Regions from separate parts of the Homo sapiens genome. Here region 1 is linked to region 2. The links come from fine-mapping of genetic effects on gene expression. A gene starts in region 2. The other region holds a variant in brackets. All regions are shown on one strand. Distances are from middle to middle.

What was found. PIP is the estimated chance that this variant, and not a neighbour inherited with it, causes the effect.
Region 1: its variant is the best candidate, but not a certain one, in a credible set for the expression of PRKACB in lymphoblastoid cells (GTEx, PIP 0.76).

What each region holds. Positions count from the first base shown.
Region 1 is chr1:84,557,094-84,562,484 of GRCh38, reverse strand. All of the region lies in intron 13 of SPATA1 (spermatogenesis associated 1), which reads right to left. All of the region lies in intron 6 of CTBS (chitobiase), which reads left to right. Among named protein-coding and RNA genes, the nearest start is that of CTBS, 15 kb to the left of the region's middle. The variant G/A (reference allele first, on the strand shown) is at 2,712.
Region 2 is chr1:84,141,177-84,146,567 of GRCh38, reverse strand. PRKACB (protein kinase cAMP-activated catalytic subunit beta) reads right to left here and starts at 2,297. Exons shown (of 10, transcript NM_182948.4): 1 at 2,020-2,297. The coding sequence starts at 2,206. RefSeq lists a silencer at 2,229-2,278.

The DNA of each region.
Region 1 (5,391 bases), 420 kb before region 2:
ATGGTCTGGTACCCATTTATAAAAAAATGACTGCAAACACACTACATGTCATAAATTATAATTGATATACATGTGTATGCCTCCACAGAGAGCTTTAGTGTAGAGCTTTCTAAACTTTGGAACTGAAAGTATATACCTATTAGTGAAACTAGAGTGTATTGTAATCTTATCTTTCCTAAACAGTGTTTATATTAGTCTGTCCTGGGAACTGTTAATATTACACACACAGATGCACATGTGTGCAAAATATACACACGTGTGCCATGGCCAAATATATTTAGAAAAACACTATATACTGTACGCCCCTCTTGGAGATTTGTAACAACAATTATATTAATGGGTTTGAGAAGTGCTGTAATACATAAGGTAGTTTAATTGTTTGACATATAATCTTGTTTCACAGCATTCTTAGAAACATGCAGTTCTTAGAAACTGTTTCATGGATATGGTTTGTTAAAAGTTATGGTAACCAATTACATATACAGGCATACCTTAGAGATATTGCAGAGTCAGTTCTAGACCACCACAATAAAGTAAATATAGCAATAAAGCAAGTGACATGAATTTTTTGTTTCCCTGTGCATATAAAAGTTATGTTTATACTATACTGTAGTCTGTTAAGTGTGTAATAGCATTATGTCTAAAAAAAGTACATACCTTAATTTAAAAATACTTTATTGCTAAAAAAATGATAACGATCATCTGAGCCTTTATCAAGTTATAACCTGCTTGCTGGAAGAGTGTCTTGCCTTGTCATTGATGGCTGCTGACTGATCAGGGTGGTGGTTGCTGAAGGTTGGGGTGGCTATGGCAATTTCTTAAAATAAGACAACAGTGAAGTTTGCCACGTCAATTGACTCTTCCTTTCACGAAAGATTTCTGTGTAAAACGTGATGCTATTTGATTGCATTTTACCCACAGTAGAACTTCTTTCAAAATTGGAGTCAACCCCATCAAACTCTGCTGCTGCTTTATTAATAAGTTTATAGAATATTCTAAATCCTTTGCTGTTATTTGAACAATGTTCACAGCATTTTACCAGGAATAGATTCCATTCTCAAGAAACTACTTTCTTTGCGTATTCATAAGAAGTAGCTCCTCATCTATTCAAATTTTATCACGAGATTGTAGCAATTGAGTCACATATTTAGGATTCACCTCCAATTCTAATTCTCTTGCTGTTTCCACTACCTCTGCAGTTACTTCCTTCACTGAAGTCTTGAACCCCTCAATGTCATCCATGAGGGTTGTAACCCACTTCTTCCAAACTCCTGTTAATGTTGATATTTTGACCTCCTCCCATGCATGAATCATGAATGTTCTTAATGGCATCTAGAATGGTGAATCCTTTCCAAAAAGCTTTCAGTTTACTTTGGCCAGATCCATGAAAGGAGTTACTGTCTTTGGCTGCTACAGCCTTACAAAATCTATTTCTTAATTAATAAGAGTTAAAAGTTGAAATTACTCCTTGTTCCATGGGCTGCAGAATGGATGTTGTGTTAGCAGGCATGAAAATAACATTCATCTTGTGTTCTCCATCAGAGCTCTTGGGTGACCAAGTGCATTGTCAATGAGCAGTAATATTTTGAAAGAAATCTCTTTTTTTTCTTAGTACATCTCAGCAGTGGGCTTAAGATATTCAGTAAACAGATGTGCTGTGAGCCAGGCTTTGTTATTCCATTTATAGATCACAGGCAGAGTCAATTTAGCATAATTCTTAAGTGCCATAGGATTTTTGGAATGGTAAATGAACACTGGCTTCAACTTAAAGTTACCACCCTCATTAGTCCCTAACAAGAGAATCAGCCTGTACTTTGAGCTTTAAAGCCAGGTATTGACTTCTCCTGTCTAGCTAGCAAAGTCTTAAATGGCATCATCTTCTTCCAATATAAGATTTATTTGAAGAAAGGGGTCTCTGCCTTTTAAAATGTGTTTGATCATAATTTTACCCGACATGGGAGGTTTCAGAATGAAAACCCAAAGATACAGGAAAAACTGTCCATTTTTGTGCTTAGGTTCAACGAAGTATGGACAGCTATGTAGAACTGTGATCAGAATAAAGGGCATGAGCTAATGCAAACAGACTGAGTGGGAAAACTCAGCAAGGACTGTCTGTTCAGATTTTTCTTGGCCTCTCTGTGAAGGATTTCTTCTCATGGGTATGGGGTAGGACCTCTCTGGAATGAGGGTCTTAATTTCTTTATGGCCAGCTATTACACAGAAAGGTGGTGGTGGGAAAGGTTAGAGTAACATTTTTAGACTTTATGGCTGGTTTTGGGGAAAAGAGGCTCTAGTTTCTATGACCCATTTTAGGGAAGAGGGATTCTAGTTTCTCTTTCTTTCTTTCTTTCCTTTCTTTCTTTCTTTCTTTCTTTCTTTCTTTCTTTTTTTTTTTTTTTTTGAGACAGAGTCTTGCTCTGTCGCCCAGGCTGTAGTGCAGTGGCGCCCTCTGGGTTCACTGCACCCTCTGCCTCCTGGGTTCAAGCAATTCTACTCCTCAGCTTCCCCCATAGGTGGGATTACAGGTGCCCGCCACTATGCCGGGCTAATTTTTATATTTTTAGTAGAGATGGGGTTTCACTATGTAGGCCAGTCTGGTCTCAAACTCCTGACCTCAAGTGATCCGCCTACCTTGGCCTCCCAAAGGCCTGGGATTACACGCATGGGCCACTGCACCTGGCCAACACATTGTTTAAGCTCTTAGAATTCAG[G/A]AAACATTTTGGTGAGCCTTGAAGGCCATTTAATGTCACTTCAGAAAACAATCTAATTATAACTATTTTCTTCCTCTTTTTTATTCATTGCAAAATTCCCATTGTAAGGTTATTAGTCTAATTTCAATATCGTTATTAAGTCTTTTTTTTCTGAGATGGAGTATCGCTCCGTCACCCAGGCTGGAGTGCAGTGGCACAATCTCAGTTCACTGCAACCTCTGCCTCCTAGGTGTAAGTGAGTCTCGTGCCTTAGCCTCCCAAATATCTGGGGTTATAGGGATGCCCTACCATGCCCGGCTAATTTTTTGTATTTTTAGTAGAGATGTGGTTTCACCATGTTGGCCAGGCTGGTTTGAAACTCCTGACTTCAAGTGATCCTCCCATCTCGGCCTTCCAAAGTGTTGGCATTACAGGCGTGAGCTACCGCGCCTAGCCAAATATTGTTATTAAGTCTTATATGGGCAGTTCATGGTGCCCACAAACAATTACAATAGTAGCATCAAAGACCACTGATTGCAGATCATCATAACAGATATAATAATAATAATGAAAAAGTTTGGAATATTTTAAGAATTGCCAAAATGTGACACAGACACAAAATGAGCACTTGCTGTTGGAAAAATGGCACCAGTAGACTTGTTCAATAGAGTTGCCATAAACCTTCAATTTGCAAAAAATTTAATGTCTGCAAAGCACAATAAAGCAAAGTACAATAAAATGAGGTATGCCTGTAATTTAAAAATATGTAACATAGAATCTTAGGACAGTATATACTACCATATACTGTTTCTTTGTAATCCTGACCTTAGTAATCTGTGGCTTGTTTTTTCCTTAATGAATGTGAAAATGCAGGAACACATTCTTCTTTTTTTTTAGACGAGGTTTTGCTCTGTCACCCAGGATGGAGTGCAGTGGCACAATCATGGCTCACTGCAGCCTTGACCTCTTGGGCTCAAGCAATCCTCCTGCCTCAGCCTACCAAGTAGCTAGGACCATAGGCGTGTGCCATCATGCCAGGCTGATTTTTTTACTTTTTGTAGAGACGGGGTCTTTCTATATTGCCCAGGCTGGTCTTGAACTCCTGGCCTCAAGTGATTCTCCCACCTTGGCCTCCCAAAATGCTGGGATTACAGGTGTGAGCCACTGCACTTGGCCTCTTTTTTTTTTTTAATTAAAAAAAAGTGGCCGGGCGCGGTGGCTCACGCCTGTAATCCCAGCACTTTGGGAGGCTGAGGCGGGCGGATCACGAGGTCAGGAGATCGAGACCATCCCGGCTAAAACGGTGAAACCCCGTCTCTACTAAAAATACAAAAAAAATTAGCCGGGCGTAGTGGCGGGCGCCTGTAGTCCCAGCTACTTGGGAGGCTGAGGCAGGAGAATGGCGTGAACCCGGGAGGCGGAGCTTGCAGTGAGCCGAGATCCCGCCACTGCACTCCAGCCTGGGCGACAGAGCGAGACTCCGTCTCAAAAAAAAAAAAAAGTTTAATGGCAGGCAAAAATTATCTGTATTTATGGTGTAGAAGATGATGTTTTGATATATCTATACATTGTGAAATGGCTAAATCAAGTTATTTAACATATGTATTACCTCACATACCATTTTTTAAATGGTAAGAACACTTAAAATCCATTCTCTTAGGAATTTTCAACATAATACATTGTTATTAACTATAGTTACCACGGGATACAGTAGATTTCTTGTATTTATTGTTCCTAATTGAAAATTTGTGTCTTGAAATATCTATTCTTCCCACCCCCAGCCTCTGGTAACCACCTTTTTACTCTGTTTCTATGAAGAAACACATTCTTTAGGTCTCAGAATTCAGGAAACATTTTGGTGCGCATTGAAGGCCATTTAATGCCACTTTAGAAAAAAATCTAGTTATAACTGTTTCCTTCCTCTTTTTTTTTTTTTTGAGATGGAGTCTCACTATGTCGCCCACGCTGGTGTGCAGTGGCGCGATCTTGGCTCACTGCAAGCTCCGCCTCCCGGGTTCACGCCATTCTCCTGCCTTAGCCTCCCAAGTAGCTGGGACTACAGGTGCCCGCCACCAAGCCTGGCTAATTTTTTTGTATTTTTTTAATAGAGACGGGGTTTCACTGTGTTAGCCAGGATGGTCTCGATCTCCTGACCTCATGATCTGCCCATCTCGGCCTCCCAAAGGGCTGGGATTATAGGTGTGAGCCACCGCGCCCAGCCTCCTTCTTTTTTTTTTTTTCTTTTTTTTTTTTTTTTTTTTGAGATGGAGTTTTGTTCTTTTCGCCCAGGCTGGAGTGCAGTGGCACGATCTCGGCTGACTGCGCCCTCCGCCTCCCAGGTTCAAGCAATTCTCCTGCCTCAGCGTCCTGAGTAGCTGGGATTACAGGCATGCATCACCACACCCAGCTAATTTTTGTATTTGTAGTAGAGGCAGGGTTTCACCATGTTGGCCAGGCTGGTCTTGAACTCCTGACCTCAGGTGATTCACCCATCTTGGCCTCCCAAAATGCTGGGATTACAGGCGTAAGCCATCGCGCCTGGCCCCCTCTTTTTTATTAATTGCAAAATTCTGTAGCAACATGAATCAAGTTTCTGTCTTATTTGAAGAGAATCACTCTATTGGGCTGTTTCAGCAATAGCAGCTCATCTTGGACTCAATATTCTGGAAAGCAAATATGCCTTAACCATGCATAAATTAGT
Region 2 (5,391 bases):
AGCTTTGAAGAATGTGGTTCATATGAAACTTTGTACAGTCAGAACTCCTTCTATAACTCATTCGCCAAATAAATAAAAATTGTGTTTTCACCACAAAAATAAACCTTGGAATTTTGAAATGATCGGATTCCTCTATTTCAGCTCTATCAGTGTTTTCTCCTCTACAATAATACATTTCATAATAGGAAATTATAGCTTCATGCTACCATACTCATCCTTAGACATAAAATTATTATCTCTATTATGGTATTCAGGGATATAAAAAGGAGAGTCAAGTAGAGGAATGCTTAATTAATGAACATTCAGTTACTCTTTAAGTATTTCTTACATCATGCATATTATTTGCAGCGCTACATGGTTTGCTCCTAATTTTATTTGTGTACAAGAATCCTATTTGTTTTGACTTCACAATAAAAAAAAAACAAAACAGCATTTTATCCAATAGAAATCATGGCTCATGATACTATTTTCCATTACTAGATTTTAAAATATGTTTTAGAAAGCATCACAGATCCCATACATTTAAAAAGTGGTGAAAGTCTAGTTCAAACATAACTTTTAATTATTAAAAACCCCTAACATTCATTTATTTGAGACACTTTTACTAAACACCCACTATATGAAGAGCAGGTATTAATGAAACAGAAATTAATTCAATTCTGTCTTAATTCCTCATTTAACTTTAAATTAAAACATACTTGAAATGCATAAAAATAATTTCCAAAAGGATTTAAAAGACTGCAATTTAAAAGAATAGGGCAAGGACAATAATTAACAAGCTTTTGTTACATGGTAAAGTTTAATATTATACCACTATTTTAATATTCAACAGTTCATTAACTTGAAGATATATATTCATATTCCTCATCCATCAACTTGCTATACAGTAAAGACTATAAATAACCCAAAACCTTTTAAGTGGAAAAAATGCACAAATACATGTTCTTCCTCAATCTCCCAAAAATAGTTTGAAGAATGTAAAAAAATTTCTGATTTAGTAAAAAATTAATTCAAATAAGCTTCTATAACACTGTCAAGGTGCTGTATAAACCTAGGAGTAAATTTTGTAAGCCATTCTTGATTTTGCTGTTGTGGTTGTTAAGCTGAGTTTTCTTCCTTAACTGCTACCAAATACATAAACAGAAAGAGTCAAACGCTAGTGCTATTTGATGATCAAACAAACACACCAAAGAGGGCAAAAGTTTCAAGGGTAATTCTATTGTTCCTCTAATTGGAGTCACAGAAATACCTTGAGGAGGGTCCAAGGTGAGATGTAGAATGGCGGCACTAGTATTGTTTATATGTGCAATTTATCTTTTAGAGTGTATGGCACCAAAAATGGTTCCCCAGCACCATTTTAGCAAAGCTGCAAGTTCAAACATTTTAACATGCCTGAAAGAATGTGATTCATGCATAACCAACTTTTCCTGCATTTGAGTCATATGTATAAATAACATAAAATATAATTATAAAGTTTTTGATATCCATAATGTTATAAGTGTAAGAATTTAGATAGAATAATTATGTTTTATTTTAGAAATTCCTGTTTGTAAAACTGAAATAACTTTCTCACATGCATTTAAAAATAAAACCATGGCAAACACAATAGAAATGTAATTATAAATTCAAGAGTCTTGTTGCCCCTTTCAAAGTTTAAAGCTTATAAATACAAGACATTTTAAGAAGTAAACAGATGGTTGTTTCTGAAACTTAAGTATTTCATTTTTATGTAAGAACAACAAAAAAAAGTACATTAGAAATGATGTAAGAATTTTATAGAAAATCTTGTCACTGATATTGAACTTAGTCAAAAATAAAACCATACAATGATGAAAGCTGAATGATTCAGCTCAACTTATAATCAAGTTTTTATGGAATTCTTTCAACTTCATCTTGCAAAATGTCCTTGTGAAAATCAGAAAACAACAAACAAAAGAGGGTTCTTTATGTTTGATTGTAAAACTCCAATTACCATTTTAGTTGCTAGTTATAATGTATCATTTAAAAAACAAAACTTACTTGATCTGTCCCATAAGGCAGTATGTTCAGAGAAATGAAGGCTGTCATTTTCCAGAGCTGTTTTCTGATCATGTGCAGTACCTTTAGAGTGTCTATGAAATAACCGGCTAGCAAAACCTTCCAATTTCTGAAGAGCTGTAGTTGTACCTGTATACTGGTTACAAGGTGGTTCTCTATAAGCTGCCATTCATGTGCATTTACACTTTACTTAATGTAACTGCAAATGTTTCCAGAAGGAGCTCACAACTTCTTACACAGAAGCTAAGAGCTATGCATGTGTCAAACTTCCTGTTTGCAGGGTATTCAAACCACTACTGCTGTTCTGTTTCCTGTTAATATAAAACAGCACATTACTGAGCTTTTCTTAGCAAAACACTTTTCAGCTAGAGTTGAGGATTTTAAAAACTTGCAATATCTGCCTAAAAGGCTTTATGTTTGGGTGTTTTAATATTAATATATAGGCTAATGAGAGCATTAAATATAAAGCTTTATATATATAGTAGGCTAAACATTCTTTAAAAAGAAAACTAGTTAAACATGTATGACAAGTCTATGCAAACAACTGAAGGCCAAGCTGTCCTCCAAACACAACATGCTAAAGACAGGTTGTATTTTTTCTAGGAAATCAACTAATATACAGATTTTATGAATCCTTATAAGCAGCTAACTTTTCATAAAAAAAAACTAGTATGAAATGGGTATGAAAAAACTCTTGCAAAACAAATTTATAACACGTATAAATAAAACAATGTGAAATAGCACTTTAAAAAATTGAATGTTTCTAATTCATTGATTTAGGCCTAATACATACAGGAACTACATACACTTAGTATGTCAGTATTGCTTATCAAACTTATAATCTGCTGACATATGTCTATTACCAGGGGTACATTTTAAAACATTCTAAAATTTGAAAAGAACAAAATACAAGATTTAAATTATATAAAATCCACCATAGCAAGAAATTTCAATTGAGAGAAAAAAGTTCCTTCTAGTTGGCTGAGACATGTTAATTTTAAAACCTTACCACTGAAGACTACTACTTACCTAAACCCCTGATTTAGTGATCTCACTTAGAAACACCTCTCTATTTTTTTTTAAACGTTGTTTCACTCTGTCTCCCAGATTGGAGTGCAGTGGTGCGACCTCTGCTCACTGCGACCTCCGCTCCTAGGTTCAAGCGATTCTCGCCCCTCAGACATCCGAGTAGCTGGGATTATAGGCGCGCACCACCATGCCCGGCTAATTTTTGTATTTTCAGTAGAGATGGGGTTTCTCCATGTTGGCCAGGTCAGGAGTTGTCTCAAACTCCTGGCCTCAAGCGATACGCCCGCCTTGGCCTCCCAAAGTGCTGGGATTACAAGTGTGAGCCACCGCGCCTGGCCAAAACATCTCTTTTGATTAAAAGTAAGTAAAACTTGCCTTGTCAATTTTCAGGAAAGAAAGTAACCTGTGGCATTTAACAAAAATTTTGAGTACTTGTTTTTTTGACACTAAAGGATAAGAAATTTCCGTGGTTCTCTTTGGAAGCAGAGGGGAGGGGAGGGAAGGGAAGGAAAGGAAAGAAAGAAAAAGGTCTATCTAAAACAATCTATCTAAAAAAATCTTACTTCAGATTTACTGCCAACTGTTTGACAAACATAAAAAATAGAAACAATACTGATAAGTAAAATAAATAGGAACAATAATGTAATCAAATTAGGACTACATAAAAGGCCAATAAGAAAACACTGATTAGTGAATTTTGCCATTTAACAGTTCATTTGTGTATACTTTGTGTAATGGAATTCATATCAATCTAAACAAGTATGTAACAGTATCTATAAGATAAACTTAAATTTATAGCTTTATGTATAAATATTATGTGTGAATAACAGTTAACAAAACACTGACCAATGAATTTTGCCATGTAACAGCTCATTTCTGTATACTTTGTTTTGTGTAATAAAATTTTTATCAATCTAAACAAATATGCAACAGCATCTATATGACAAAATTCTTAAATTTGTAGCTTTATGTATAAATATTATGTGTGCATAACAATAATTTGTTTCTTAACATCTGGTAGTGCCTTACACAAAACAGACACTTATTAAATGTCTGTAGTCTTCAACAAATATCTACAGAGCATGGACTGATTCTGTAAGGGAAGAAGTGGATAAAATTACTGAATTCCCTTGATTTGCTCTACTGAAGGAAATTCTAATCATCTTCAAGGCTTAGTTCAAATGTCACCTCTTCAGTGAAGTCTGCCACATACTTCCTAGGAAAACAAACTTTGCTGCTTTGTTTTCACTGACCTCATAATATTATGTTAAAAGGTACTGTTTATGAATTTATATGACCCTAAATTGTGAGTTACTTGAATTCATAAATGAAATGCATGTATTACATACTCAATAAACATGTTAAAAGAAAAAAGTATTCACTCATTTTTAACAATTTAAAGGTCTAAGTAGAATCACCGAATACTTGAAAATGTTTGAATTTTATTTATGATGGGACCATATTTATAGATAATCCAAGAAGCACCAAGTTGCTCATATATAGAGACAAGAGTAATAGAACTGTTATCATTGAACTTCTCCTTTTTTCTATTTGTTACTAAATTTTATTCATTCTTTGAATTACATTTTTACTCAGTGCCAATGTGGACTTCTTAACTTCTTGTTTTCCCCGCTTCCAATTACCCCCTTTAATCATTCACCTCTCTGACATATTAACCTCCCCAAAGTATTACACTCATGGTATTCCATTGCCAAATACACAAACTAATCGTAACATTTCAGCTGGACCGTATTCATTTTTAACACATCTAGCCAGATTTTTTATTTATATTCAATGTTGCTCAAGTACAGAAGTTGCAGATTCCTAACTAGAACACTAAGATTACTTTATTTAAAACAATGCATAAGCTTTAAAACAAAATTACTAAAGCAAAAAGAGTAAACTTCACTAGATGAGTATCTTGAAAACACCGTATTTTAAATCTGCACTGTTTTAAAAATAAAATTGTTTCAATTTGTTATCAAGTCCTTCCAGAAAATAGAATATTTAATATTTAAAGCAATGTTTCTATATGTGGTAATGTGACCAGGAAGCTATTGCTATAGAAGTACTTCGGATATTTGATTTTTGATTAAGAAATAAAAATAAAAAGAAGAACTCTACTGGCATCTACTGCTAGAAAGAAACAACTGCAGTTTTAACTAAAACTATGAATTCCTTCATAACTGCAATTAACTTTAAGAAGTATATTGCTTGTTATTCTTCCTAGCGGTGTTTCCACAACTTTAATTCGCACTAAATGTCTCGCCATGCACCGAGAATTTACCAGAATAGCTTATCTTGTAGTTAAATAAGATTTTAAAA